4 linked regions of the Homo sapiens genome follow. Changing the gene in region 3 together with the main gene of any one other region gives a genetic interaction. Each region holds a gene or a part of one and is shown on either strand. Other genes may lie near its edges. The genes, in order: PTPRS, GNB5, ASPM and RNF135.

Region 1 (7,302 bases), on a different chromosome or scaffold from region 3:
AAATGGACTTGTGTCTCCAAGCAGGGTCCATGGACACTGGACGATGCCTGAAATCCCCTGGGAGGCAGGGAAAAAAGGCGCACTGAACGCTCAACCGGGGTATAAGGAGTGATTTTTTTTTCTCTGCTGGCAGCAGGCAGGAACCTGGGGTTTGAATGTCCCCTTCTCTGTCGCCACCTCACGCAGACTTCAGAGGCTCTCAAGGTTTCCTGGAGAGGGGGAAATCGTCCCCGGAGCTGACCTGCCAACCAGTAGCACCCTCCAGCGCCTCAGCCGGGCCACGCCAAAATGACCTGTCACCCATCTCCCGCGGGGAGTGGGGAGCGGGCCAGTCCACCGCCTCTTGGGACGGCATCTCTGGACGGCCACTGACAGTACCAGTCTCTGTCACCCCCTGGGGGGTTAGGGGCAATGTCATCGGCCAGGGTGGCAGAAATAGAAAAGTGCGTGAGCTCACCAGGCAGCCTGGGTCTCCTGCGACGTTTTGTTTGCCTGAGCCCAATTAGAACAACTCTCAGGATGATGGAGTATGGCGGGCGGTGGCCCCCAGGGGGCTGGGAGGCCTAGCCCCCATGCAGAAGTGCACCGTCATGATGAGGGTGTCCCCCGGGCCTGGGGAACAGGGCAGGACCCTGCTTCCCGGAGGGAAATAATGAAGACTCCGCCAGCCTGCCAGCCAGAAAGAGATGCCCCACGGAAGGCTTTGTGGAGGGCAGCGGGGGGGTAGGGGAGGGATGCCCAGGTGGGGACTCAGTCAGGCCCAAGCTGGGGGGCTGTGGGATTTGAGGGCGGGAAGCAGCCGCCCCCAGCCCCAGCTGCCTGCCTTCCACCGCCAAAATATCAGCTGGCAAAGAAAGAAGAGCAGAGGGACAGAAGGCAGGCGCGATTGGCAGGGGGAGGGGGGCACAAAGGAAGGGACCCTGGGAGGGGGAGGGGACTTATGCAAATGGCAGATTCGACCAAGTCCCTGGGCCATTAATAAACGCTCCAGCAGCTGCCGCTGGTATCGCAGGAGCAGAGGAGCGGGATGGCTTCCTTCTCCCGGGCGAAAGGCGGCAGAAAGAGGGAAGAAGGGCGCCCCAGACAAAGAGGCGCCGTCACCCTCTGCACCCCAAGGACAGCAGCGATAGGGGGCCACCCAGAGGAGGCCAGAATCCCAGCAGCCAAAGTCCGGGTGGTGGCGGACGGGAGCCCGGAGCGTGTGGGTCCCTGTCCTTGGGACCCTAGGGGTCTCTTCCTGCCTCCTCCGGCTTCTAGGTATCATCCCTGCTGCTCAGCCGGGACTCCGACACCTCGGACACCCGCTTCACTAGCCGCGGCTGCCGGGATGTGTTTTTAGGGTCTCGGCCAGAGGCAGGAGGACCCCATGCTCAGAAGGGGGCTCCCCTAGATTGTGACGGGGGGGGACAGGGGAATCCCAGCTGAGCCCAGAAGGGGGAGGCAAGGCACCCCCAATGAGGCTCTGGGAGGTTTGTTAATTTGGGGGAATGAGGTCCCAGGAGGTGGCTGGATTTGAGGAAGGGTTGCAGAGGAAGGGGCGTTCTTGGAAGCTGCATATTTAGGGAGACGAGAAGACGATTTGAGACTGGGGAAAGAGGGTCAACCGAAGAAGGAGGTCCCAGATTTGGGGCGGGGGGTGTGGCTGAAAAAAAGATTCCCAGTTTGTGGGAAAGGTTCCCTGATTTGAGGATTCTGGAGAGAAAGCGGCCGAAGGGGAGTTCCCCAATTTGGGAAGGGGGGGAATTGGTGGGAAATGTCCAGGATTTGTAGGGGGAGGTCCGAAGGGGAGGATCTTAATTTTAGGAGAGATTCCCATAAAGAGAGGTGAACTTGGCCGCAACCTGGCCGAACCCTCGCACCCACGGCGCGGGCACTCTAACCTGGGGGGCTCCCCTCAGGGCACGCCCCGCGCCCCCTTTAACCCAGTGCCGACGGCCCCGCCCCCGGTATGACGTCACCTCCCCTCCCCCCGCAGCCCCCGGGGGCTCCCGGGGCGTGCGGAACCCGCGGGGCTGGCGGTTCCAGGGGCGGCTTCCCCACTCTCGGGATCCCCACGGGGCCCCCAGCGCGGAGGGGAGACTGGGGTGCTGGGCGTGCGCGTCTGCCTGCCAGAGCCCCTGGGGCTGGGGGCTGAGGCTCGCCCCTGGGTGGGGAGGCTGGAAGGGGGCGCCGAGGCCGCAGAAGGGTGGGGCAATGCCCGAGTGCCGGAGGGGCGACCTCCCATAAGGCAACGACAGGGCCCGGAGTGTTCCAGGGGAGACGGCGTAGACTAGGGGGTCTCCAGGGGAGGGAGACCCGGAGAGGGAAGGCGGCGGGCGCAGCAGCCCTGGAGCCACCCCGCCTGGAGCCACCCGTCCCGGCTCCTCTCCGCTCCGGGGCGCCCGCATGCCCCCCATCCCCCGGCACAGCGCCCCCTGCCTCCAGGACCCGCCCGGGGACCCGGGCCGGGCGCCGCCGGGGCCGGCACCGGCTCCGCACACACGCGCGCCCCCCTCCGCGCCTCTGCCCCGCCCGCAGCCCGGGGTGGTGCAGCCGGCGGCGCTGGGCAGCTTCCAATGCCGCGCTCTGGGCGCTTCCAGCCCAGCCCCCTCCCACGCCGCGGACGAAGCCCCCCCAGCACCCCCTGCCGAGCGCCCCCAGCGCGGCCCCGGCCCTGTCCCTCGGGGCATTGTCCGGGCGCAGCTACCGGGGCGCAGCGGCTGGGCGTGCAACTGGCTGCAGCCGAGCATCCTCCGAGCACAATGGCCGTGCAGGCTTCCCCGGCACAAAGCCGGCGCGCTGCCCACTCGGCTGCCTCCGAGACCCCCCTTGGAGCGCCTGCATTTTTTTTTCCTCTAATCCATGATTTTATTTTTTTTTTTGGCTTTACCTGGAGGCTGGCTGGGCTGGGCTCCCCCGGCTCTGCCCCGCTTCACATCGTGGCTGTTGCATGGGATCCGAGCGGAGCCCGAGCGCCAGCGGCTCGCGGCGTGCGCGCGCCGGCCGGGCTGCCGGGCGGGCGGCGCGAGGACACTCACTGCGGCTCGCGCTCCCCTAGCTCCCGCTCGCGCGCCCCCCCAGCCGGTGACGTCATCCCTTCCGCCAGCGCCGCCGCCGCCGCCGCCGGGTCGGGGGCAGGGCCGGCCCGTGCGCGTCACTGCGCAGCCGCGCGGCCGCCACGCCCCCCGGCCAATGGGACGGCGCAGCGCGGTCACGTGGCTCCGGGGTGTTTAAAGGGCCGCGGGAGCACGTGGGGCGCGGGGCTTCGCGGGACACGTGGGCGGCTGGGGTGGTGGTGGTGGTGGCGGCTGCGGCGGCGGCGGGAAGGGCCCCTGGGGCTACTGTCCGTGCGGGAGCCCCAGCGTCCTGGGTGCAAAGGGCATGGCACTTTCTGTGCGCTGCCCTAAACTGTGCCACGGCTCCCCAGTACCCTTGGAATAAAATCCCGCCTCCTCTCTGCAGCTCGCCGTTTCACATTAGCGCCCACTACCCTGTCCCCTCCCCCCCACCATGTCAATGATCCAGAAAAACCAGCTGCTCCTTCTTTGCTTTTTCAGAGATGGGGTCTGCCACCTGGGCCTCAGTACAGTGGTATGATCATAGCTCACTGCAGCTTCAAACTCCTGGGCTCAGGTGATCCTCCCGCCTCAGCCTCCTGAGTAGTTGGGCTCGGGTGATCCTCCCGCCTCAGCCAGCTTCTTACAGTTCCTCTAACTTGAGCATCCAAGAACTTCCCCTTCTCATCTTTCCAATTTCTGCTCAAATAAGCAGCGCCTGGGAGAAGCCCTCCCTGACAACAGCTACCAGCCACGCCCCACTCCACTCTATCCCATTATCCCGGTTTGTTGTTGTTGTTGTTGTTTGTTTGGTTTTGAGTCGGAGTCTCACTCTGTCGCCCAGGCTGGAATGCAGTGGCGTGATCGCGGCTCACTGTAACCTCCGCCTCCTGGATTCAAGCTATTCTCCTGTCTCAGCCTCCGGAGTAGCTGGAATTACAGGCGTGCTGTCACCACGCCTGGCTAATTTTTGTATTTTTGTTAGAGACAGTGTTTCACCATGTTGGCCAGGCTGGTCTTGAACTCCTGACCTCAGTGATCCGTCCACCTCGGCCTCCCAAAGTGCTGGGATTACAGGCGTGAGCCACCGCGCCTGGTCCCATTATCCCGTTTTTATTCTAGTTACACTACAGTGTGGCTCCAGAGATCCCTATTGTAGGTTGAACACATGAATGAATGGATGATGGAGCACTTCTTATAGAGTAAGCACTTTACACAGGTCTCACCTAATTACCATCCCCTGCTTCCCTGGAGTCAGGACGAGCCACAGTTGGAACCCAGCTAAAACACTGATTTGCTGTGTGAGGCCCGGAGCCTCACTTTCCCCATCTGTAGAATGGATTTGCCTCTGGATCTCAGCTCTCATCTGTAAAATGGGGCAAGGTAGCCCCTGCTCCTAAGGAGGGTGTGATGATGAATTGCTATAATGTGGCAGCCTGGCTGCCATTGGTGCCTGAAGATGGAATAATAAGAGAAAAGAGGCCGGGCCCGGTGACTCATGCCTGTAATCCCAGCACTTTGGGAAGCCAAGGTGGGCAGATCACTTGTCAGGAGTTCGAGACCAGGCTGGCCGACATGGCGAAACCCCATCTCTACTAAAAATACAAAAATTAGCCGAGCGTGGTGGCAGGTGCCTGTAGTCTCAGCTAGTTGGGAGGCTGAGGCAGGAGAAACTCTTGAACCCGGGAGGCGGAGGTTGCAGTGAACCAATATCACACCACTGCACACTCTAGCCTGGGCGACAGAGTGAGACTCTCAAAAATAAGGAAAAAAAACAGAGCGGAAGTAAATAAAAGGGGGATATTGACAAAGGTAAGGGGGTTGGAGGGCTCACAGCCACCAAGCAAGATTGCACATCAGTCCTTGTGTTTTGATCATGTCGAAAGCATTTATTTCCTCAAGGCACATATTTGGAGAAGGCCTGGTGCCCAACAGAGGAACTCAACTTTAGAATTGGTTTTTTTTTTCCTCCAAAATTGTTGATTCATTCATTCCAGGCCACAGATGCAGATAAACAAAAAGCATTAACCCGGGGAACAAAACGATAAGGCGGAAGTCATAAACAGGAGAAAAGAGAGGAGATAATGAATAATTTAACAAGGAACCTAATTTAAGCTTGGAGTTTCCCAGCGGCCAGTGCAGCAGCCACGTTTGCAGAGCCTACTTTGTTTTTCTTCCTGGTGGGGTGACCCTGATCTGACCGTTTACAATCTGGCCTCAGTTTTCTCATCCAAGCAATGGGAACACGATCCCATCTTGAAGGATCAAATGGGGTGGTCTGTGCACAAATGCTTAGCGTGGTTTCTCACGCACAGTGGGTGCTGAAGCCTTGGAGAATTGGTGGAGACACAGTAAAATGAGATGGCTGATCGTGGAGGGGCTGATCATGGCACGAACCCCAGCCCAGTGACCTGTTTGGGAGGTGACCTCAAACAAGTGGCCGCAACACTGTAAGCCTAGCTGTCCCCATCTAGAAAAGGGGGACAACCACTAGTACCTCTGAGGGATTTTGTGAGCAGTCAAAGAAAACAGATTAAATACATCAAAAACAGAATTAAAATACATTGTAGCAGCTGGGCGCGGTGGCTCATGCCAGTAATCCCAGCACTTTGAGAGGCCAGGGCGGGTGGATCACCTGAGGTCAGGAGTTCGAGACCAGCCTGGCCAACATGGCAAAACCCTGTCTCTGCTAAAAATACAAAAATTAGCCAGGTGTGATGGTGCATGCCTGTAGTCCCAGCTACTCATGAGGCTGAGGCAGGAGAATTGCTTGAACCTGGGAGGCAGAGGTTGCAGTGAGCTGAGATCACACCACTGCACTCCAGCTGGGCAACAGAGTGAGACTCCCTCTCAAACAAAAAATACGTTGGCCAGGTGCGGTGGCTCACGCCTGTAATCCCAGCACTTTGGGAAGCCAAGGCAGGTGGATTGCCTGAGCTCAGGAGTTTGAGACCAGCCTGGCTAACATGGTGAAACCCCATCTCTACTAAAAATACAGAAATTAGCTGGGCGTGGTGGCGCGTGCCTGTAGTCCCAGTTACTCAGAAGGCAGGAGAATCGCTTCTACCCGGGAGGCAGATGTTGTAAGTGAGCTGAGCGCCACTGCACTCCAGCCTGGCAACAGAGTGAGACTTTGTCTCAAAAAAAAAAAAAAATACATTCCAGCATGTGCTTGGGAAACCCATCTGTTCAGGCCATGCATCCGGCCCCGCTCCCAGGTTGTTTGAAGTGCTGTGGACAACAGAAGTAAACAAAACAGTCTTTAAAATCCCTGGAGTTGGCCAGGCACTTTGGCCCAGCACTTTAGGAGGCTGAGGCGGGAGGATGGCTTGAGCCCAGGTATTTGGGACTAGCCTGGGCAACATAGGGAGACCCCGTCTTTACAAAAAGTTTTAGAAGTTAGCTGGGCATGGTGGTACACATCTGTGATCCCAGCTACCTGGGAGGTTGAGGTAGGAGGATCGCTTGGATGTGAGAGTTTGAGGCTGCAGTGAACTCTAAGCACGCCACTGCACTCCAGCCTGGGCAACAGAGCAAAAATTCCTGGAGTCAACAGTGCTGGGAGGAGATAGGAAATATCTTATTTAGAGTAAAAGCTTAAGCTCTTCCCACAGCTCACCAAGCTCTGCATAACCTACCCCCTTCCCCGCCCTCTGTCACCCTCGCTCACTCTGCTCCCGCCACTCGGGCCTCCTTGCTGTGCCTCCAACACACCAGGTAAGGTCCTGCCACAGAGCCTTTGCACTGTCTGTTCCCTCTGACCAGGATGCTGTTCCTCCTGCTTTTCTCAAGGCCAATTGTTCCTCCTTGCTCTTCGAGTCTCTGGGAGACCCTCCCAGACCATCTCACTGAGGTGACCACATGATCATCTTTACTTCAGTATCAGATTATTTATCATGATTTGGAATGATTTTATATTTTGGCCGGTTTGTGTGTTTCCTGCGTGTCTCCCTACTCTAGCTGTGCCTCAGTTTGCCTGTCTGTAAATGGGGATAATAATAATCGTGGTCCCTGCCGGGCGTGGTGGCTCACGCCTATAATCCCAGCACTTTGGGAGGCCGAGGCGGGCGGATCAGGAGGTCAGGAGATCGAGACCATCCTAGCTAACATGGTGAAACCCCATCTCTACTAAAAATACAAAAAATTAGCGGGCGAGGTGGCAGGTGCCTGTAGTCCCAGCTACTCGGGAGGCTGAGGCAGGAGAATGGCGTGAACCCGGGAGGTGGAGCTTGCAGTGAACTGAGATCACACCACTGCACTCCTGCCT
Region 2 (7,765 bases), on a different chromosome or scaffold from region 3:
TCACCTATAATCCCACCACTCAGAGAAACTTCTTTTTACATTTTGGTGTAGCAAGAATAGATTTGAGACCACTGAGGTCATACTGTTCATGTATACTGATTACATTTCTGTATCTTGATGTTTTTCACTTAGTATTTGTATCAGCTAAATTTTAGTACTTTGTTGTACTTATTGTCAATATCCTTTTTATGATGAGAGAATTTTTCACAGCTAGAGCCAATGTTTCGATGAGCATTTTGACAAGAAAGACAGAAATGCCCCATTTAACAAATTTTGACATGAAGTTGCTCTGCAGTAGTTCATAGAACTTCTCAAACCTTCCCCTAATAACTTTATGCCAAGCACAAACTTTCTTTGATATCTGTTTTACCTAAATATGTGACTTAAAAAATTACCACAGAAATACGTGTTTATTTTAAAAAGAACCAGTACCAAAGATGAAAAAGTAAAACTTGAATCCCCCATCACATGCCCTGCATTTTCACTGCCCTTAGTTTGTTGTTTATTCTTCCAGACTTTTCTGGCACAAACACATAGATACAGCTTTGGTAGTCATGCAAATAGGGCTACTTGCTTTCTTCATCTAACTTATTCTGTTAACACTTATAGATCAACCTTGTTTGGTAATAGGTTCAGCATTATTCTATGCTGTGGAGTGTCATAATTTATTAAACCAACTTCCGTGTTTGGATACATAGGGTATATCCAGTTTTTACTTTTAAAATACTGCTTCATTAACTCAATTAAAAATGGACAAAAGGACCTTCATACATTGCTGGTGGGAAGGTAAAGTGGGGTAGCCGTTTTCCAATGGTGCAGCTGTGGAAAACGGTTTGGCAGTTATTCAAAACTTAAATATACAGCTGTTACCATAAGACCCCGCAATCCTACTTCTAGATATATACCCAGGATACTTGAAAATGTATGTTCACTGGCTGGGCGTGGTGGCTCATGCCTGTAATCCCAGTACTTTGGAAGGCCCAGGCGGGTAGATCACCTGAGGTCAGCCTGGGCAACATGGTGAAACCCCATATCTACTATACAAAAATTAGCCAGGCGTGGTGGCAGGTGCCTGTAATCCCAGCTACTTGGGAGGCTGAGACATGAGAACTGCTTGAACTTGGGGGATGGAGGTTGCAGTGAGCCAAGATCGCGCCACTGAAATCCAGCCTGGGCAATGCAGTGAGACTCCGTCTCAGAACAAAAAAAAAGAAAATATATGTTCACATAAAAATGTACATACTAATTTTCATGGCAGCATTATTAGCCAAAAGTGAAAGCAACCCAAGTGTCCACCAACCGACAAATGAAAAACAAAATGTCTATCCCTCCAGTAGACTGCTATTCAGCAATAAAAAAGAATGACGTTCTGACACATGCTACAACATGGTCAAACCTTAAAAACGCTATCCTATGACAGAAGCCAGACACAAAAGGCCACATATTGTATGATTTATTTATATGAAGTGTACAGGATCAGCAAATCCATAGAGACATGAAGCAGATGAGTAGTTGCGAGGTGGAGGGAAGAGAGAATAAGGGGGAAGGAGGGAGCTGAGAGTGAGTGGCTGCTTAAGGGGTATGGGATTTCTTTTTCGGGGTGATGAAAATACTCTGGAGTCAGTGGCAATGGTTGCAAATCCTTGTAAATAAACTTAAAAAACACTGAAATATATGTTTTAAAATGATGGGTTTTAAAACATGAAACAAAACGTGGACATCATATCTCAATAAATTTTTTTTTTTTTTTTTTTAGACAGAGTCTTGCTCTGTCGCCCAGGTTGGAGTGCAGTGGCGCAATCTCGGCTCACTGTAAGCTCCGCCTCCCAGGTTCATGCCATTCTCCTGCCTCAGCCTCCCAAATATCTGGGAATACAGGCGCCCGCCACCTCACCCGGCTAATTTCTTGTATTTTTAGTAGAGATGGGGTTTCACCGTGTTAACCAGGATGCTCTCAATCTCCTGACCTCATGATCTGCCCGCCTCAGCCTCCCAAAGTGCTGGGATTACAGGCATGAGCCACCGCGCCCAGCCCAAAGATTATTTTTAAAATGGACAAAAGGCTTGTGTAGTCACTTCACAAATGAGGATACTTATATGGTCAATAAACATATAAAAAGGTGCTCATTATCATTAGTCATCATAGAAATACAAAGTAAAACTACGATGTGATACAACTACTTAGCCATCAGAAAACCTAAAAAGCCTGACAACACAAAGTGTGGGCAAGGATGCAGAGACTGGAACTGCCTTTCTCTGCTAGTGGGAGTATAAGTCGGTATAACCACTGTAGAAAACTGGTTGGTAGGAGCTACTAAAGTGAAACGGATATAGTCTATGACCAGGCAATTCTACTCGTGCATACATACACCACAGAAAATAATGCTTATTTCCTTAAAAAAAAAAAAAAAAAAAAAAAAAAAAAAAAAAAAAAAACATAAATGTCATAGCAGCTATTCATAGAAGGCCTAAACTTGAAAGACCCAAATGTTCACCAGTCACAGACGAAACTGTGAAATGAGCATAGAATAAAAAATAACTGATACACACAATGTGGATGTATCTCAGACTTACAACTAAAAACCTCTTTCTAACCCCATAAGCTGTACTCAGAGGCTTATGTTGCCATGTGTCACCTGGATCAAATTTTAAAACTGACTTAGTGATTTTAAGTATGCTTAATCTCTTTCCTGATGCCAATATTAATGTAAAAAATATTGAAATATTTCAATTTGAAATATTTGAAATTTACTATTTCAAAATAAATTCATGTGTATTGTAGAAAAATTAGATTCTACGGATTAACAACAACAAAACCCCTCACCCATGCTCCCACCGCACAGAAAGACCTGCTAACACTGTGCCCTGTACTCATCTGGATGCTTTTCTGAGCATTTCAAAAGCTGGAGTATTTTAACCGAATGTCAGCATGCACATACCTTCCAGAGTCAGCACTGGGAGCCACAGAGCAGATGGTGAGAGGTGAGGACCAGCGCGCAGCTTGAGGTGTGAAGCACGTCTCCCACTGGCTAATCTCCTTATCTTCTCTGGAGTGCTGCTCAGCTTGCTTCCTTCCTCCACAGCACTTCCATGCTCCCTGCTGGGCACGCACTGCCATCTGCATCCCTCACTCACCCCTGGAACCTGCCCAGCCCCTCTGTGGAGGGAGGCCTTGGCAGGTTTGACCTCTGTGTCTGCGCCCACTCACTGAGCAGCCCTCACATTCACCTGGGCCACATGTTCTTAACATTTCTCTATTTTGGTCTCCTTGCCACTGTCAGCTTTGTAGAACTGATCAAGACTGTGGGATGAGTGCCTCCCTTTCCCCATTTTTCCACACATAAACTCCTCAGCCTCCACAGGTCTCCCTGTCCCCAAACATGACCTACTTTTTCCCATGGTTGACTCCCCACCACACACACACAGTCCTCCAACGGGACTTTGCTCCTTCAGTTCTCTTCCCACCTCATCAGCAGTAGGATGAAGGCAGGGATGAGGAGGATGTGGCACCTGCCCTCTGGGGCTCACAGGCCTACAGAGGAAATGGGCAGCATTTCTGGCTTCCAGTCCAGGGTAAGTGCTATAAAACAGGCATAAATCCTGAGTTATGGAAGCCGAAAACCAACAGTGATGGCTCCTCATGGTGTGGGGAAGGTCTAGAAAGGGCATGGAGGCCGCAGCTCAGGATCAGAAACCCTGCCAATTCTCTGCCAAGTAGCCCCTCATTCTGACAGTGTGGAAGCGCCCTGGAGACACAGCCTAAGCCAGCACTTATGACATATTTACTTCTTCTCTAAACATTTTAATATACTTTAAATGAGATATTATGAATCTATAAAGATTCTAGCATCTTTCAGTATGACCGTAAAGAAAGGCATACAACTTGTACACTTAAGAGACATGTCATCTCCTCGCAATGAAAGAATCTGACCCAATTCATTTGGTAATTAATTTTATTGATTAAAGTATTACAAAGTTCTACTTTTCATTTTTTCATGTACAATGTATTGAAATGAACTAAACTCAATCACTTATAATATAAAAAGACATTATTATGTATTAGCAGGGTGATGCTTCATAATCATGTATTATTCCTACCTCTAAGACACCAGTCTGTATTATAGAATCACAGCTGTCACCTGTGACTGTCAGAAACAGAAGGTGCAATTGGGATTCTTAGGTTGGTGACAGAATAGCACTGGATCCACAGGCCAGAGACTAGGAGTGCTTATCAAATGAGGTTTTAGGCTCTGAAAGGAAGGAATGAGAAGGTGTGCCGGGACAAGGAATAGCCAGTTCCCATAAAACTTGGGAAACGTAGATTTCTCAAAAGTAGGGTCCGACACAATTTTTTAGTTACTTTTTGAGAAAATTTAAAAATAAATACATTGAAATGCTGATTAGAGAGCGAAAGTAATTTAGGTTGCTTTTTCAATCTGAGGTTGTTTTAAAAAAGTTATTGTATGAAAGGTATTAAAAAATAAAAAAATTATGGTGAATATGTTGGCAGGTAAGATTTGAAGTTCTTTCAGAGAAGATAAACGGCATGGCAATTAAGCTTTAATAATATATTAGTTTTAAATAGATATACATATAAAAATACTTCAAATGATTCATCTCGGATTGAACACTCTTAAAAATTAAAAGGGTCAGCCGGGCGCGGTGGCACACGCCTGTAATCCTAGCACTTTGGGAGGCTGAGGTGGGCGGATCACGAGGTCAAGAGATCGAGGCCATCCTGGCCAACATGGTGAAACCTGTCTCCACTAAAAATACAAAAATTAGCTGGGCGTGGTGGCAGGTGCCTGTAGTCCCAGCTACTCAGGAGGCTGAGGCAGGAGAATTGTTTGAACCCAGGAAGCGGAGGTTGCAATAAGCCGAGATCATGCCACTACACTCCAGCCTGGCGATAGAGCGAGACTCCGGAGTCTCAAAAAAAAAAAAAAAAAAAAATTTAGAAGGGTCTAAAATAAACATTTTTAAATGCAGGGCATTTTCAGTAAAAAGAGTTCATGAAAACCTTCTGTCCCCAGCAGGCATGGGGCAAGAGAACTTTTGGCAGGTCACGGTGGCCAAACGGGATTTTTTCCTGGAAGACTCAGCACTAGAATCCACTTGCAGCTTTGTAAATGTACTCAGGTTTCACATGAACCTTAGAAAACTTGGAAGCCACTGTGTCCCCAGATCTCACTCCCTCCTGGTAGAGCCCTGCCACAAGACAGAACAGATCAAGAGGCACGTGGAAGAAAATATGAGCCCTCCAGGAATTTCAGTGAAAACCAGCTGAGATTCGAGAGTGAGACATGGCTTTTCCAAATACAGCTGGTGTGTGTGAATTCTTACAAAATTACAGGAGCAGCATTGTCACTGTGAGTGAGAGATGATGTGGTCCATTTGAGAAAAGTCTGTTTTCTTCCTTAAATCACATTCCAATTTCCACTGCCAATTAATAAAACACATCCCTCATATTGAACCTTCACTTAGCTTTTGAAGAAAAAGTGCATTGACTTTTTCTCCTGCTATAACCTATTCAGAAAGCCTAGCTTGAAACTGCTGGGGATCTGAATCATTTCCAGAGCATGTGGAGAGGGGGTAAAAGGAAATGTGACTTGAAAGAGATATTTGGTATCCAACATCAGCTGTGATGAATCCTCCCGGCTATTTAGGAGAGCCTGAAATTAGAATCAGAGGAAAAATGAGTAAGGAAACTAACATGTTCTGCTTTACTGCTACCTGAAAGTCAAGGCAAAACACAGCTATCTCTAGTGGAGAGCTCCTTGCACCATCACATGAAATGACATACATGAGAACTTTTTAACAACAGCACAATTCCAAAGTCTATCCAGGGCTTCCAGATCAGCTCTCAGAACAATTAACTTGTCCTGTTTCACTTCAGAAGTTAATTTCCCATGGGATGAGTTGACCATAAATCTGTTTTCTATTCTAATCTATTCTCATGGCATAATTCTAAGGTCAAACATGAGTAGATTTCAAGTATTACATTTTTATTGAACCCATCTTTCTTCTTCATTCATGGGTTTGCAACCTTTTTGGTCTCAGGACCGCTTTATACTAAAACATGACTGAGGCCCCAAAAGCTTTTGTGTATATGGGTATATTGGCATTTGCCATATTAGTAATTAAATATACATTGTGTATATGTGTATATCGGTATTTGCCATATTAGTAATTAAAATGATTTATTAATTCATTAAAATAAGCTCTACACATGTTAAACATAAGTTTCCAAAACAAAGAAAATTTAGTGAGAAGTGGTATTTTCTATTTTTGCAAATCTCTTTCATGTCTGACTTAATATATTATCATATATAACCATATATTATATACGCCATATTTTAATATATATGCTATATTATCATATATACGATATATCATATATATCTGCTTCTGCATTCAATCTGTTGTGATATGTTATTTTGGTTGAAGTACACGAAGAAAATCCACAGATAACTATTGAGAAAATCCACAGATACCTACTTAGAAAATCCACAGGTACATATTTAGAAAAAGGAAGAGTTTTGCAGACCCTCTTGAAAGTGTCTCAAGGACTCCCAGGGATCCTTGAGCCAAACTTGGAGAACTGCTGCCCTAGAGTTCCTTAGGGGACAAACTTTAGGGATTATATAAGAAAAAATGGTTATACAAATGATTATAAAAGAAAAATGGTCTCTGTTTCCATTCAGCCTCTGCCCACTTGCACAGTATTCAACGATCAGTAAGAAATAAGATATATTGACAGAATACAGCACGGGAGACATGATTTTGGTGCTTTCATTCCCCTCCCACCTGGACTAAGGTGGATTCTGAAAATTTCACAGGAAAATTTCCTGCTTACCTTTGAGCTGGGTGCCTTTCATTTGTATATGTGGGTAAATGTACTTTAATCCTGGATTTCTATAATGTTAATTAAGTATCAACATCTTATACCATAGTTAGGAAGTAAAATTAAAAGGCACATCCTTAAGAATCTCACCTGTACTTTGCGAACAAAGGATGGAGTCACTCTCTTCTCAAAGTCATCTATAGGTGTGTATGAATTAAGGATCTTTATGATCTGCAAACGGTACATAACATGGTGTTAGACCATGCAAAATAATAACTCTGTTCATAAAATAATGGTTCTGGTTATTGGGAACCATTGGGAAGCACAGGTGGTTCTTTTAGCCTATAATTTGGTTCAGGAACTGTATGTTACCTATTTCCAAGAAAAGAAAACAAGGGGAGAAAAGTGCCTTAGGGAGCAAAGGCAAATCAGATAATCAGAAAACAGTAAGAGGAGCCCCCTTCTAGCCTCCCCACCTCCCACATGGCCACCCCTCCACATACACATTTGTGAGTTTAATGGGCAGGGAATGAATGCATCATAGACATTTGTGTATATGTGTGTGTGTGATTATTATTATTATTATTTTTGAGATAGGGTCTCCCTTTATTGCCCAGGCTGGGGTGCAGTGGCATGATCATGGCTCACTGCAGCCTCGAACCCCTGGACTCATGCGATCCTCCCGCCTCAGCCTCCCAAGTAGCTGGGACCAAAGGTGTGTGCCATCACACCCAGCTTTTTTTTTTTTTTTTTTTTTTTTTTTTTTTTGGTAGAGCGTCTTGTTATGTTGCCCAGACTAGTCTCAAACTCCTGGGCTCAGGCAATCCTCCCACCTTGGCCTCTCAAAGTGCTGGATTACAGCTGTGAGCCACCTCGCCCAGCCCATTTCTATGTTTTTAAGACCTAGTGTTAGTATTTAAT
Region 3 (7,675 bases):
TCACAAGCTTGTAGTGGGCTCCTAACTCTGTCAACTTTTTGGGAAACACTAAATGTTTTATTAACATTCTGAATATTTGAAACCCTTCTGTTGTGACTTGTAGAGGCTGAAATTTTCTTCTTTTTAATGGTATCCCAAAGACTCCTCTGCAAAAATAAGGAAAATATACCAATTAAGTTTGTAGCTATTGAATATTAAATAAGCAATATTACTTCAAGCCTGTTATCAAAATAAGTTTTATTTATTATTAAACAATTTCTTAGAGTAAATCACAGAATGGTTAAAACATTACCTTTTTCTTTTTCTGCTCTTCTGCATTTCCTAGTAATATAGCTTGGTGTTTCAGAACATCATTTACAAGAAATGTCATAATCTCTCTTACTCGGCCTTCTTTGAGTGGTGTCCAGTTAACAGAAATAACAATTTTCTCTTTAGGCTATAATCAAAACAATACATTATATAATTACAATAGTAATTACATAATAACCAAAACACCTTATATACAACTTACAATATAGTAGGGCTTAATAATTGTTAACCAACACTCTATATACTAAACATTTAATAAATCAAATATATTTCTCCTACCCTATCTGCTTAATTATAAGAAAAAAAGTCACTAAAAATAACAGGGTTCACAACAAAATAAATAATAAAATCTTAACTGTATTAAAGCAATAGAACAGATAGTCTCTAAATCATTTTGTTTGAGTGGTTTCAAAAGATTTAATTGTACATTTCTAATTTTTAGATGTGTAGAGTACTTCTACTTCAAACACAAGGACCCTGCATTATGAAGACTTTATTTAAAAAGAAATGTAAAGATGATCAGCTAAATTCCTTCTTCCTTACAAATTCCTCTAAGGTCCACATCATCATACTGAGATTTCTTAAACAGGTATTATTGTTCCAGGCATAAGTGCAGGTATCCTGTAAAACTCATTTAATGCTAACATCCCTAGGAAGCAGGTATTATGATTATGCACATTTTACAGATGAAGTAACTAACATCCAGAAAAGTCTGCCAAAGTCACGCAGGTACCTATTAGAACCCAGGCAGTCTAATGCCAGAGTTTGGACTTTAACATCTACACCCCACACCCTGGCAGGTAGACAGAATCTGCCAAATTTAAACGCTGACATGACAAAACAAATTTTGTTTTTCAGGAGAAACAGACAAGTTTCTGTTTTAAAGGAGAAATAATATAACATCATAAACAACTAATTTTAAAAAATAAGAATGGTGCATTTTTACTCTATAAAATAGTTTATTCTAAAAATACCACAAAATTTAGTTCCACATTATAACAAAAAAGAGTAAGTTGAAGTATTATGTGGATAGAAAAGAAATCTGTCTTTCCAAAGAAAGGAAAGCAGGCAGTGATTCATGAAACAGAGGGGCGGGGTGGGTAGGTTCTGAAGTGTAGATAGATGAACCATTGGTGACACACAAGTTAAGGGACCTCAGATTAGAATCTCTTTTTTCTGCCTAATGAAGTGGTTATTAGCCTACTAGTTCAGACCTCCTCGGCTAACGGTTTTCATACTTTTGGTGATTCTACTCAATGGAAAGGTCACAGCAGTCAAAATAAAAACATAAATTCTCCAGTCTTTGGTGAAGGGGATTGGAGCATTACTCTTGCAAATGCAATGCAGTAAAAGAAAGCTACAGGAGTTCTTGAAACAACATTTATAAAATTAAATTTGATGCAGCATTAAAATTACACTTAACAGCAAAGAAAAAAAGGACTAAAATACTAAAGTGTGCATACATACTACACGTATATATTGAAAACAACTCTGAATAGGTTTTTTTGGTTTTTATTGTAGGCATTTAGCCAGAACAAAGCTCACTATTTCACCGGAAAAAAAAACCAGTTACCTCGACTCTAAGGGTACATATGGAAACTAAAATGCATATTAAGATGGCTGATAGAAATTTTAAAAAAAGCTGCTTTAACCAACCAAGGTACTCCTGTCAATCTTAAAAAAGTGTTAAAAAAGTGCATTGTCTATTAATTTAGAACGGCAAGGCTATTTCACAACGCCTTAAGTCTAGTAAAAGTGCTTGTCAATTTAACAGAGAAGTCTATATAACTTGCTCCTAAAGATGCTAAGTGCGCGCGCGTTTATGTGTTGTCCCCGCCCAAGTTAGCGTCTATCCTAGCCTTCAATTAGAGAATATATATATATATATATATATAATATTGACACATATATATATACTCACACACATGTGTATGCGTCAAGGGCCCACCCACAGTTATTGAAAAGGAACTGACTTCACTCTCTAAGGGTCTTTTCTGATTTCTTTTCCAAGAGCCACCCACAGTTATTGAGTGAAAGGGAACTGACTTTATTCTCTAAGGGTCTTTTCTGATTTCTTCTCCAATCGTCAACCTTCCTGAGGAGGGTGGCAGGAAAGATAGCGGAGAAGCAGAACACCGGCCTGGAGCACGCTCCTCCTGAGACCTACCTGCAACACGAAACAGCGCTGCGACACACTGAAGCCCAGGTCCGCGGCCGGGAAGTGGGAGATCTTCACTTCTGCCACCTCCTCGTTAGGGTTGTCTAGGGCCAGAGACAGCGTCCGTGAGGCTCCCAGGAGAACGTCCCCGAAGCAAAGGAAAGGAGACCTGCAGAAGTGGCTGAGAGACAGGACCGGCGGGGAAGACGCCTCCTCCTCGGCCGCGGGGCCCCGCAGCCCCGCGGGCGGCCTCCGCTCGGTCGGGCTCACTTCCCAGCAGCCTCGCCCCACTCGCCGGTTCGCCATGGCAGATTCGAGACCCCTCCTGGATCTCCTTGCCCCGCTCCCACGAGGCGGCTCCGGAGCGGGGATCCGGGACTTACGCTGACCGCTTCCCCTCAGGGGCGGCTGTAGAGGTCGTGGGAGTGAATTCGGCCCTTTTTCTTTTCCACTAACCTACTCCCTAGAAAACAGAAAACAAGCCCAATAAACTCGCAAATTAAAAAGAGGAGCCAAACAAGTATGGCGTTTTGACTCTGTTTAAACTTGCCGCCTCCACCAATGAGGACCTCCGGGCACCGCCCTCCTCGTCACGGGACCAATCGGTGAGCAGCATCCCCTGGCCAATGAGACGGCGGCGCTTCATTTGAATGATTGCATCCGGCCGCCAATCGCTATCTGCGGAGGAGGTGAGAACGGTAGCGGAATCCTGGCCACCGTCTAAAACCCGGGGCTTAGAATTGAAATTCGTCTTTATATTTTTGGTTGTGCTGAAGGGAAGGGAGTCACAGCATTTCCACAATACATGTAGTAATCATTGCGGTTTCCAGGAACAATCATAGATAAAACTGTTACGTAGGCAAAAATTGGTTTATGCCACTCCTCTCATATGCATACCCCGCCCAGAATTATATTAACTTTACTGTCGCGGTTTCCAGGGCTGAATGGTAGAGATGTAAAGATAATTAGTTTGTATGAACATGCTTATTTTAGTGACAACATAGCAGGGACTCAGTACATTTACATGCTGTTAATTACCTCGGGACGCTGGGAGCAAAACCAGGTAAACAAATGAAACCTGAGATTACCAGTAATTCATAAATGATTGTTTTGACTGGCAATGCCCTTCACAAATATCTTATTAGTTTTTATTTCAATTGTAGGGATCTAATAATAATTATAGCTTACATATTAGGGATTTTTTAAATTATTTATTTATTTTGAGATGGAGTCTCGCTCTGTCTCCCAGGCTGGAGTGCAGTGACGTGATCTTGGTTCACTGCAACCTCCGCCTCCCGGGTTCAAGCGATTCTCCTGCCTCAGCCTCCCAAGTAGCTGGAATTAGAGGCGCGCCTCACCACGACTGGCTAATTTTTGTATTTTTGGTAGAGAGGGGAGTTCGCCATGTTGGCCAGGCTGGTCTGGAACTCCTGGCCTCAAGTGATCCGCCTGCCTCCGCCTCGGCCTCCCAAAGTGCTGGGATTACAGGCCTGAGCGGCGCCCGACCCTAGGCTAGGGATTTTTTAAAAATCCTTTACCTATTTATCTCAACCTTTGCCTTAAACCTACGAGGTATCTCTTAGGGCGTAGGTACCATTATTTGTATCTTACAGATGAGGAATACAGGTCATACAGCTAAGTAGGAAGTGGCATAACCCAGATAGGTACACATGCCTGTAATCCCAGCAGTTTGGCCCTAGTCTTGCTCTTACCCACTACACTATATTGCCTCTAAAGGCAGTAGAAAACTTAAAAAATAAAAATAATGTCTGGATGTATGTATGGTTACACAAAACATGTAAAAAGAGAAGTCAATGGGAAATCAAAATAAGGAAGATGAGACATGAAATTATATTCAATGGTGTCCAATTTCACCTGAAGTTGGACCTTAACAATATTTAAACGAAATTTTTCCACTGGGCACGGTGGCTCAAGCCTGTAACCCAGCACTTTGGGAGGCTGAGGCAGGCGGATTCTTGAGGTCAGGGGTTTGAGACCAGCCTGGCCAACATGGCGAAATGCCGTCTCCACTAAAAATAAAAAAATTAGCCAGGCGTGGTGGAGCATGCCTGTAATCCCACCTACCCCGGAGGCTGAGACAGAAGAATCGCTTGAACCTGGGGTGGGGGGTGGGGGCAAGGTTGCAGTGAGCCGAGATCATGGCACTGAACTCCAGCTTGGGCAAGAGAGCAAGACGCTGTCAAAAAAAAAAAAAAAAAAAAAAAAAATTCTTTCATAGAGGCTTAAAAAAAAAAACAACAAAACAAAACCCTGGAGCAGAGCCTCACAAGTCATTTCCAGTTCTCCTCAGCATCTACCCCCCACGACCTCTCCATTAGCTTAGTTAGGCTCCAAAAAATAAAACTTGGACGGAGGAGAGTGCAAGATATGCTGTGGGAGGGAGGAAACAGCCTATACAGCAAAGAGTTAAAAGATTTTGACAGTCTAAGGTGGAATGTAATGGTGTTAGACCAAGAGGACAAATCATAAGGAACAATAAGGCCAAATTTATTGTCATGGGTGCACTTTACCCATTTAATTAATACAATGTCCGAAGTACCTGGGAATGGCTTTAATAGTTTAATAGGTTCACTAATTGAAAACTGAACTCAGTAGTGGTTTACAGTCAGGTAGGTCAAGGCCAGGCACGGTAGCTCATGCCTGTAATTCCAGCACTTTGGGAGGCTGAGACAGGAAGATCGCTTGAGCCCAGGAGTTAAAAACCAGCAACAAAGTGAGACATGGTCTTTATAAAAACAAAAACAAAACAGGCAGTTAGGTCAAAATGCTCAAACTACCTGGCATTCTGTACACGAAGGAGTCCAAAAGCTCAGGAAGATAGGAATGTTGGAGAAAATCTACATGTGCAACCTGCTTGGCCAAGTCACATCTAAACATGCACACCCTCCACCCATTCTCCTTTTACCAAGGTGTTGATAAATGCATTAACTAATAAAAAGGACTCCAGCATCCATGAAAAGACCTGGGTGACTATTTTTTATAGGCCAGAAATGATGATAGAGGATCAATAATGAAAATAGGTTCTCTGATCTCCATGTGAATTATATGATCCACAAGTGGTCAAAGTCGATTGGCACTTAATAGACAAGGTGGTATAGTTCTTACCACAATATGCTAATGGCAGAATTGTAATTAGAGGCAGGGATCTGTGGCAATGGCCAGTTTCTCAAGGGCCCTATAAATAAGATGAGCTATATACTATGGTGCTGCCTAACATATATAGGCAGAGAAATACCACATATGCAAAGCAAAAAACCTAACTGAAGCCAATGTTGTGGCAGTTATGCCTTTTACCCACTTTCCAAACTTAAGACAGTTCATACACCCAAAGCTCCTTGACTAGAAAGAACCCTGCAACACGAATACCATAAATCTTCTCTCAACAATTCCCCAGAGGGAACTGCAGTCATTTACCCACATGAATATGGATTGGGGGCAGGAACTTGACTTCCTAAGGGTTATTAGATAATGAGATAATAGCTCTGCCTTTCTGCTATACTCCAGAATCCTAAAATGTCACTGTGGACCACCAGACATAGTGAGAGCTTCTCAAGAACCGGTGACAGATGGCATCTAAGTCAGAATCTGTCTTACCAAGTGTCCTTTGGATCCACCCATTTCCAGAATATAAAATAGGAACACTTACTGACCACATTCTCACACTGGTTCCTAGATCCAAGGAACAAGGGCAATTATTGGAGAAAGGGCCAAGTGGAAGCCCCTGAAAATCACCATTTTCCCACCACGGCAATTCAGAGATTATTCTGAATACCTGAGAGATGTTGGGATAGTGATTTTGTCCATATACCCACTTTCTCCACTTATTTGGCCAGTGCAAAAGCCAGATAGATTCTGGAAAATGATAGTAGATTATAGCAATTAGGTGATGATGCCAATTATTACACTACAGTTTCAGATGTGTTATTTTTATACACAAATCAACATACCTTTGTCAGCTGGTTTGCAGCTATGAATCAAGCAAAATGCATTTTTCTTGTTTTTCCCCATTCATCCAGTATTGAAAAACCGAAGCACTTTGTACTTAAGTAGTGGTACAATGCTGTAGCATTACTGTCCTGCCTCAGGGCTCGTCAAATTTCCTACCTATACTGTAATATTGTTCAGAGAGACCTGGATCTTAGTATCACACTGGTCCATTATATTGATGACATTTGCTAATTAAACCTGGTGAGCAAGAAGTACTTGTCAAGAATTGTGTGAGTCTGAGATTTTATCCCTCTTGCAAGCTAAAGAGTTAGCGTGCCAGTTTCATAAAGGCCAGCAGAAAATATGACAGTTTTGGGTTAGAGACAAGACTTTATTATTCACAGAAAAAACAGTAGCTAGAGTGTCAGCATGTTCATTCACATTGATTCCTCCTGCTTCCTAAGTCTCATGGGACCATACAAAGGGCCCTTGATGGATGCCTGCACACACAGTGGGTTGTATTACAGGAAAGGAAGAGCGAATTGGAGATTTGACTGTTTTTATAGTACTATGCCTGGGCAGGGAGACATCCTATCGTCCCTCAAGATTTCTGCAAACACAATCCTGAGAAATGGCCTATGTAGAAATTAATAAGGGCTTCACATTCTTAGCATAGCCAGCAAGAATGTGTAGGCCTGCTCAGAGCCCATGGTAAGTTGCATCTCTCAACAGGAGCAAGCACTGTGGATGCCAATAATAAAACAAATGTAAACCAGATGGGACAAAGTTCAGGGTCCTATCACATCTGTAAAGTTTTTAGGGATCCAATGGTCTGAGACATGTCAGGCTATCTCTTCTAAAATAAGAGGCAACTTGTACTTTGTATCATTTGTAAAGCCTCTTTAGATTTTGGAGGCAATGCATGCATTATTAAGACACATCTCACCAAACCATTTACCTAGTAAACTCTAAGACTGACATTTTTGAGTTAGGCCTGGAACAAGTAAGATCTCTGCAGTAGGTCTGGGCTGCAATGGCCCAAAACACTCATTCCATGACAATCCAAGATGTGGAATAGAAGCTCTGGCAAGTTTCCAGAGAAGTATCACAGTACAAAATTCCAGGTTTGGAGAATAAGACTATGCCTTCCTCTGCAGAAAATCATCTATCATTTGAAAAACAGATCCTAATTATGCTATTAGGTATGGTAGAGACTGAATGCCTCATCAAAGGACTATAAGTGACTGTGATACAAACTGT
Region 4 (6,848 bases), on a different chromosome or scaffold from region 3:
TTTTTCTAGAGATGGGGTTTCATCTCTAGATGAAACTTTGGCCTCCCAAAGTGCTGGGATTACAGGTGTGAACCACATGCCTGGCCCAGCCAAATGATTGTTGACAAGGATGCCAAGTCTAATCAATGGAGAATAGACTCTTCAACAAATGGTACCAAGACAATTGGATTTCCACATACAAAAGAATGAAGTTGGACCCCTAATTCACACCATATACAAAAATTAACTTAAAATTGACCAATTACCTAAACGTAAGCTAAAACCATAAAACTCTTAGAAGAGGCTGGCACAGTGGCTCATGCCTGTAATCCCAACACTTTGGGAGGCCAAGGTAGGCAGATCACTTGAGGTCAGCAGTTCAAGACCAGCCTGGCCCACAGTGAAACCCCGTCTCTACTAAAAATACAAAAATTATCCAGGTGTGGTGGCAGGCGCCTGTAATCCCAAATACTTTGGAGGCTGAGGCAGGAGAATTGCTTGAACCCGGGAGGTGGAGGCTGCAGTGAGCTGAGATCGTGTCACTGCACTCCATCCCTGGGAAAGGAGCGAGACCTCGTTTCAAAAAAAAAAAAACTCTTAGAAGAAAACATAGGGGTAAATCTTCATGAACTGAGATTTGGCAATGGATTTGTAAATATGACAACAGAAGCACAAGCAACAAAAGAAAACAACAGATAAAAATTAAATTTAAAACTTTTGCACATCAAAGGATACCATCAAGAAAGTGACAACGCTTAGAATGGGAGAATATATATTTTATAATATATCTGTGAGTCATATCTAATTTGATATCCAGAATATAGAAGGAATCTCTAAAACTCAACAACAAAAAGATAAACAACCCAATTTTAAAATGGTCAAAGGACTTGAATAGACATTTCTGCAATGAAGATCTATAAATGACCAACAAGCACAAGAAAAGATGGGCAACATCATTAGTCATTAAGGAAATCCAGATCAAAATCACAGTGAGGCTGGGTGCGGTGGCTCACGCCTGTAATCCCAACACTTCCGGAGGCCGAGGTGGGCAGATCACAAGGTCAAGAGATCGAGACCATCCTGGCCAACATGGTGAAAACCCGTCTCTACTAAAAATACAAAAATTACCTGGGTGTGGTGGTGCATGCCTGTAGTCCCAGCTACTTGGGAGGCTGAGGCAGGAGAATCACTTGAACCCAGGGGGCAGAGGTTGCAGTGAGCCAAGATCATGCCACTACACTCCAGCCTGGCAACAGAGCAAGACTCCATCTCAAAACAAAACAAACAAAAAAAATGTGGCACATCCACCCAATGGAATATCATTCAGCCCCATAAAAGGAATAAAGTTCTGACACATGCTACAACATGAATGAACTTTGAAAACACTATGCTAAGTGAAAGAAACCAGGCACAAAGGGACAAACATTGAACGATTCCAGTTATATGAAATATCTAGAACAGGCAAACTCAGATACAGAAAGTAGCTTAGATGTGAGCAGGGGCTAGAGGGAGGAGAAATGAGGAGTTACTGCTTAATGAGTACAAAGTTTCTGTTTATGATGATGAAACAGTTTTGGAAACAGAAGTGATAGTTGCACAACAGGAAATGTAACTAATTTGTCACTGAATTGTACACTTAAAAATGGTTAAAATAGGCGGGGCGCGGTGGCTCACACCTGTAATCCCAGCACTTTAGGAAGCCGAGGCGGGCAGATCACGAGGTCAGAAGATCGAGACCATCCTGGCTAACAACGGTGAAACCCCGTCCCTATTTTTTAAAAAAAGAAAAAAACATACAAAAAATTAGCCAGGCGTGGTGGCGGGCGCCTGTAGTCCCAGTTACTCGGGAGGCTGAGGCAGGAGAATGGCGTGAACCCGGGAGGCGGAGCTTGCAGTGAGACAAGATGGCGCCACTGCACTCCAGCCTGGGCCACAAAGCAAAACTCCGTCTCAAAAAAATAAAAGGTTAAAATGAGGCCAGGCGCTGTGGCTCATGACTGTAATCCCAGCACTTTGGGAGGCCGAGGCGGACGGATCATCTGTGGTCAAGAGTTTGAGACTAGCCTGGCTAACATGTCGAAACCCCGTCTCTACTAAAAATACCAAAATTAGCCGGGCGTGATGGCGCACGCCTGTAATCCCAGCTACTCTCGAGCCTGAAGCAAGAGAATCACTCGACCCTGGGGGGCGGAGGTTGCAGTGAGCCGAGATCACGCACGCCATTGCACTCCATCCAGCCTGGGCGACAGAGCGAGACTCCGTCTCAAAGAAATAAAGAAAAAGGTTAAAATGGCCAGTTTTAATGTTATATAGATCTTACCACAATTTTACAAGTTTCAGAGAAAGAGACCGAAGATCGATTGGGAAGAAGTTGAAATATGCCAAGCTGTGTAACAGCTAAGTTGACAAGCTTTCGGAAGATGGGGAATTTGTTTTTTTCTACTTCTTCATACTTTTATGAACTTTCCAAAGTGCCTCCGAAGAGCGGAACTCGACTTTTAGACTGAGAAAAGGAACGTAAAAGTAGAACGGCTGAGGAAAGGGGTTCGAGCCACATGGGAAAGGGTCAGGCGGCGGGCAGCCCGGGGGAGCCAGGGGAGCTGCGGGCCCGGCCTCCCTACCCGCTGCAGTTCCGGGCGGCGCCGGGGCCTCGCGGCCGCGCTGGAGAGGGAACTGGAGCCCGGGCAGGGGCAGTGGGCAGGGTCGGAGCCCGCCTGTATCTCGCGTGCGGCGCGGCGGTACTTGTCGGCCAGGTCCTGCAGTAGCGTGTTCTTCCGCAGGTGCGGCTGCTGCGCGGCGCCCTGGCGGCAAGTGGGGCAGGCCCAGCGGCGGGCGTCGCGGGCGCCCCACAGGGCCTCCAGGCAGTGGCGGCAGAAGCTGTGGCCGCAGGGCAGCGTGGCGGGCCAGTCCAGCAGCCCCTGGCAGATGATGCAGCCGAGGTCGTCCTCGGCCAGCCACACGGGAACGGCGGAGCCCAGGCCCAGGCCCGCCATGGCCAACAGGCGGCCGGGGCGCGGACGTCGGGGTTGAGCCGGGCGAGTCTCCTCAGGCTCCTCCCTCGCCCTTCCTCTTCCCCTTGCCCTCCTCCTTTTCTCGGCCGCCTTTTCTCCTCCTTCCTTGGCGCCACCCCGTCTCCTTCCTCCGATCCTGCTGAAAACAGACTTAGAGCCTCCAGTGCCCAGCTGGAAAGACAGAGCTGACCTTCAGTGGCGGCCTCTTGCCCTGGGAAACCAACATGCCGCGAGCTGCTAGAAACCCGCGGAGGTCTCCAAGATTCCCTTTAGCTGGATGTCCCTCCATTAAGATGCAGCACCGTTGGATGTCTTCGTCCGTTGGCTTAAAAAAAAATAAACAACAAAAAAGATGCAACACCGACAACTCTTGGGAGGAGAGGACTCCATTCAGCAGCTTATTTATGAGAATGAGCCCACGAAGTGTCATCCAGCTCCTCTAACAAGTAGCAGGGGATTAAAGATCACCGATGCACAGCCACAGGGAGCGTCCTCAAAAATGCTGATGTTCGGCCCCGCTCGCAGGGAGTCTGATTTCATTGTCTTGGGTGGAGCACGGGTATTTTGTAAAACCTCCCCCAGGTGATTCTGACGCGCATTCAAGGTTGAGTGAGCGAACCCTTGGCTTTTTAACTCGCAGGTATAATGCAGAGTTGTGCGCTGTGTCCTTACCGCCTTCTGCGGGATGTAAGCGCGTTTCCCAACAGACACTCGGACAAAATTCTAGAAAGTGTTTTCCTGAGAAGGCTCACTCACTCACTCACTTCGCATCCCAGTCCTAAACGCATTGCAACCAGAAAATGTTAGAGCTAAAAGAGCACCACGTCCTCCCAGATGACCCAAAGAGGTTAAAAAAAAAAAAAAGAGAAAAAAGAAAAACTTGCAGGCTCTCATGGTAACAATGAAGCGTCAGAGACTAAAACCCACAACTCCCCAATCTGTTGAAATGAACTAACAACGTCTCATGCTTTACTTTATCCTTTCTGGCCTGGGCTCAAAGTAGGTATCAGATAATACAAGTTTGTAGCCGACCTTTGGATCACTTGAAGTCAGGAGTTCAAGACCAGCCTGGCCAACATGGTGAACCCTCATCTCTACTGAAAATACAAAAAGAAAAGAAAAGAAAAGCCAGGCGCCCTGGCGCATGCCTGTAATCCCAGCTACTTGGGAGGCTGAGGCAGGAGAATCTCTTGAACCCGGGAGGCGGAGGTTTCAGTGAGCCAAGACTGCGCCACTGCACTCCAGCCTGGGCGACATAGGGAGACTCCGTCTCAAAAAAAAAAAAAAAAAAAAAAAGAAAAAAAAGAAAGAAAAGAAAGAAAAAAAAGCGTTTGTGGTTATTTCTAATACTGGAAGTGTCATGGAGTAGGCAGCGCTGCTCATCAACGTTTCCAGTGCTTTCCCTTTCTGGGCACATGGTAGGACTGGCACTTCCCTGACCCACTTGAAACACACAGAGGTAATATGTTACTTCCCACCAGCTTTAAAGGCGACTGAGCCGGCCATTGTATCCCTTTCTGCCAGCTGCCCCAATTATGGAGATGAAACCATCATCCGGTGACCTGGGTCACTGAGTGGCTAAGATGAGCAGACTCCCTGCCAACGCACCCTAGGATACGTAGTAAGAGGGAGAAGAAAACTAGGATGTATTCAGCTTACTGAGATTTAGTGGGTGTGTGCTGCTACAGCATAACCTAGCCTATCCTGACTGATGTATTACCTGGATCTTGTTCTAGAATCTCCGCATCGGAGTAAAATCGTAGTTTCTAAGAGCCTCTTTTTTTCTGTAAAACGGGCATGATACTAAACACTTAAACATGCTCAGATCTTCCAACTTAAAAAATGAAATCACTGGCGGGGCGTGGTGGCTTATGCCTGTAATCTCAGCACTTTGGGAGGCTGAGGCAGGTGGATTGCCTGAACTCAGGAGTTCGAGACCTGCCTGAGCAACATGGTGAAACCTTGCCTCTACAAAAAAAATACAAAAACTACCTAGACATGGTAGCGCAGGCCTGTGATCCCAGCTACTCAGGAGACTGAGGTGGGAGGATTGCTTGAGCCAGGGAGGTGGAGGCTGTAATGAGCCATGAGATCTCAGGAGGTCAAGACTGTGGTTAGCTGTGATCACACCACTTCACTCCAGCCTGGGGAAGGAGCTAGACCTAGTCTCAAAAAAATTAAAAATTAAAAAATAAAATAAAATCACCTTTGACCTGAGCCTCCCTGGAACCAGCTCTCCTCTTCTCCATTTCACAGCCAAGTTTCTGGAAAGAGTGAGTTAACCAGTAGTTTTCAAACTTTTTTCTTGGACACGCCCTAAAAGTTTTATGCAAAATCATGCAGTGGTTATAAGAAAGGGGGAAGTGGGGGCCGGGCGCAGTGGCTCACGCCTGTAATCCCAGCACTTTGGGAGGCTGAGGCGGGCGGATCATGAGGTCAGGAGATTGAGACCATTCTGGCTAACACGGTGAAACCCCGTCTCTACTAAAAAATACAAAAAAAATTAGCCGGGCGTGACGGCGGGAGCCTGTAGTCCCAGCTACTCAGGAGGCTGAGGGAGGAGAATGACCTGAACCCAGGAGGCGGAGCTTGCAGTGAGCTGAGTTCGCACCACTGCACTCCAGCCTGGGCGACAGAGCAAGACTCTGTCTCAAAAGAAAAAAAAAAAAGAAAGAAAGAAAGGGGGAAGGGGGAGAGTGGTCAGCTCTGGTAGTAAAAATATATTAGCAAATTCTTCATTTATATCAGATTTTTTTTTTTTTTGAGATGGAGTCTCACTTTGTTGCCCAGGCTGGAGTGGAGTGGAGTGGCACAATCTCGTCTCACTGCAACCTCCACCTCCCGGGTTCAAACCATTCTCCTGCCTCAGCCTCCGGAGTAGCTGAGATTACAGGCGCTCGCCACCATGCCCGGCTAATTTTGTATTTTTAGTAGAGATGGGGTTTCCCCATGTTGACAGGGTTTCTCCATGTTGGCCAGGCTTGTCTCGAACTCCTGACCTCAGGTGATCCGCCCACCTCATCCTCCCAAGTGCTAGGATTACAGAGGTGAGCCACCGCGCTCAGCCTACATCAGACATTTTGTCATTCTTGGCCGAGTGCGGTGGCTCATGCCTGTAATCCCAGGACTTTGGGAGGCCGAGGCAGGCGGATCATGAGGTCAGGAGTTCGAAAAATACAAAAAAAAATTAGCTGGGCGTAGTTGCAGGCACCTGTAATCCCAGCTACTCAGGAGGCTGAGGCAAGAGAATCATTTGAACCCGGGAGGTGAAGGTTGCCATGAGCCAAGATGGCACCATTGCACTCCAGCCTCGGCAACAGGGCAAGACTCCGTCTCAAAAAAAAAAAAAAAGAAATTTTGTCATTCTTTTATCTTTCTGAACTTGTATTTCCATTCCATTTCCTCCACAGAATTACATTCCAAAGCAATATATTTCATGCATGAAAGTCTTTTATCACTTTGTAATACTTCTCTACAACAAAAGTATGTATGTGTATTAAATTTTTAATTCTTCTTAACTTCCTGTGACAAAAAGGCTCTTGGTAAATTTTTTCCCCTGGATTTAATTATCAATATAATTACTATTAGCAGTCAAACAAAAGAAAAGTATGCTGCAATTTATAACTTTTATATAAATAAAATAACTTTTAAAGACAGTAAACATTTTATTGGAATGATAGCTATTAATAAGACAGATGGGCTCATTTCTTTCAAAAATGCATTTATGCCCAGGCACGGTGGCTCACATCTGTAATCCCAGCACTTTGAGAGGCCAAGGTGAGCGGAACACTTGAGGTCAGGAGTTTGAAACCAGCCTGGCCAACCTGGTGAAACCCTGCCTCTACCAAAAAATACAAA

Evidence for each region.
Region 1: changes in ASPM (region 3) and PTPRS together harm fitness more than expected from each alone (negative genetic interaction), as found in Homo sapiens cells (one study listed by BioGRID).
Region 2: changes in ASPM (region 3) and GNB5 together harm fitness more than expected from each alone (negative genetic interaction), as found in Homo sapiens cells (one study listed by BioGRID).
Region 4: changes in ASPM (region 3) and RNF135 together harm fitness more than expected from each alone (negative genetic interaction), as found in Homo sapiens cells (one study listed by BioGRID).

What each region holds. Positions count from the first base shown.
Region 1 is NC_000019.10:5,337,795-5,345,096, forward strand, and holds the start of PTPRS (receptor-type tyrosine-protein phosphatase S isoform 1 precursor), read right to left. Parts: upstream 3,019-7,302; 5' UTR 2,870-3,018; intron 273-2,869; exon of another isoform or gene 1-272. UniProt on the Homo sapiens protein: Cell surface receptor that binds to glycosaminoglycans, including chondroitin sulfate proteoglycans and heparan sulfate proteoglycan.
Region 2 is NC_000015.10:52,188,383-52,196,147, forward strand, and holds the start of GNB5 (guanine nucleotide-binding protein subunit beta-5), read right to left. Parts: upstream 3,011-7,765; 5' UTR 2,940-3,010; intron 1-2,939. Other genes in the region: MYO5C (unconventional myosin-Vc), read right to left, coding at 5,520-5,672, 6,995-7,075. UniProt on the Homo sapiens protein: Enhances GTPase-activating protein (GAP) activity of regulator of G protein signaling (RGS) proteins, such as RGS7 and RGS9, hence involved in the termination of the signaling initiated by the G protein coupled receptors (GPCRs) by accelerating the GTP hydrolysis on the G-alpha subunits, thereby promoting their inactivation.
Region 3 is NC_000001.11:197,143,665-197,151,339, forward strand, and holds the start of ASPM (abnormal spindle-like microcephaly-associated protein), read right to left. Parts: upstream 3,006-7,675; 5' UTR 2,774-3,005; coding exon 2,477-2,773; intron 437-2,476; coding exon 293-436; intron 147-292; coding exon 1-146. UniProt on the Homo sapiens protein: Involved in mitotic spindle regulation and coordination of mitotic processes.
Region 4 is NC_000017.11:30,967,198-30,974,045, reverse strand, and holds the start of RNF135 (E3 ubiquitin-protein ligase RNF135), read right to left. Parts: upstream 3,008-6,848; 5' UTR 2,973-3,007; coding exon 2,601-2,972; intron 2,583-2,600; exon of another isoform or gene 2,300-2,582; intron 1-2,299.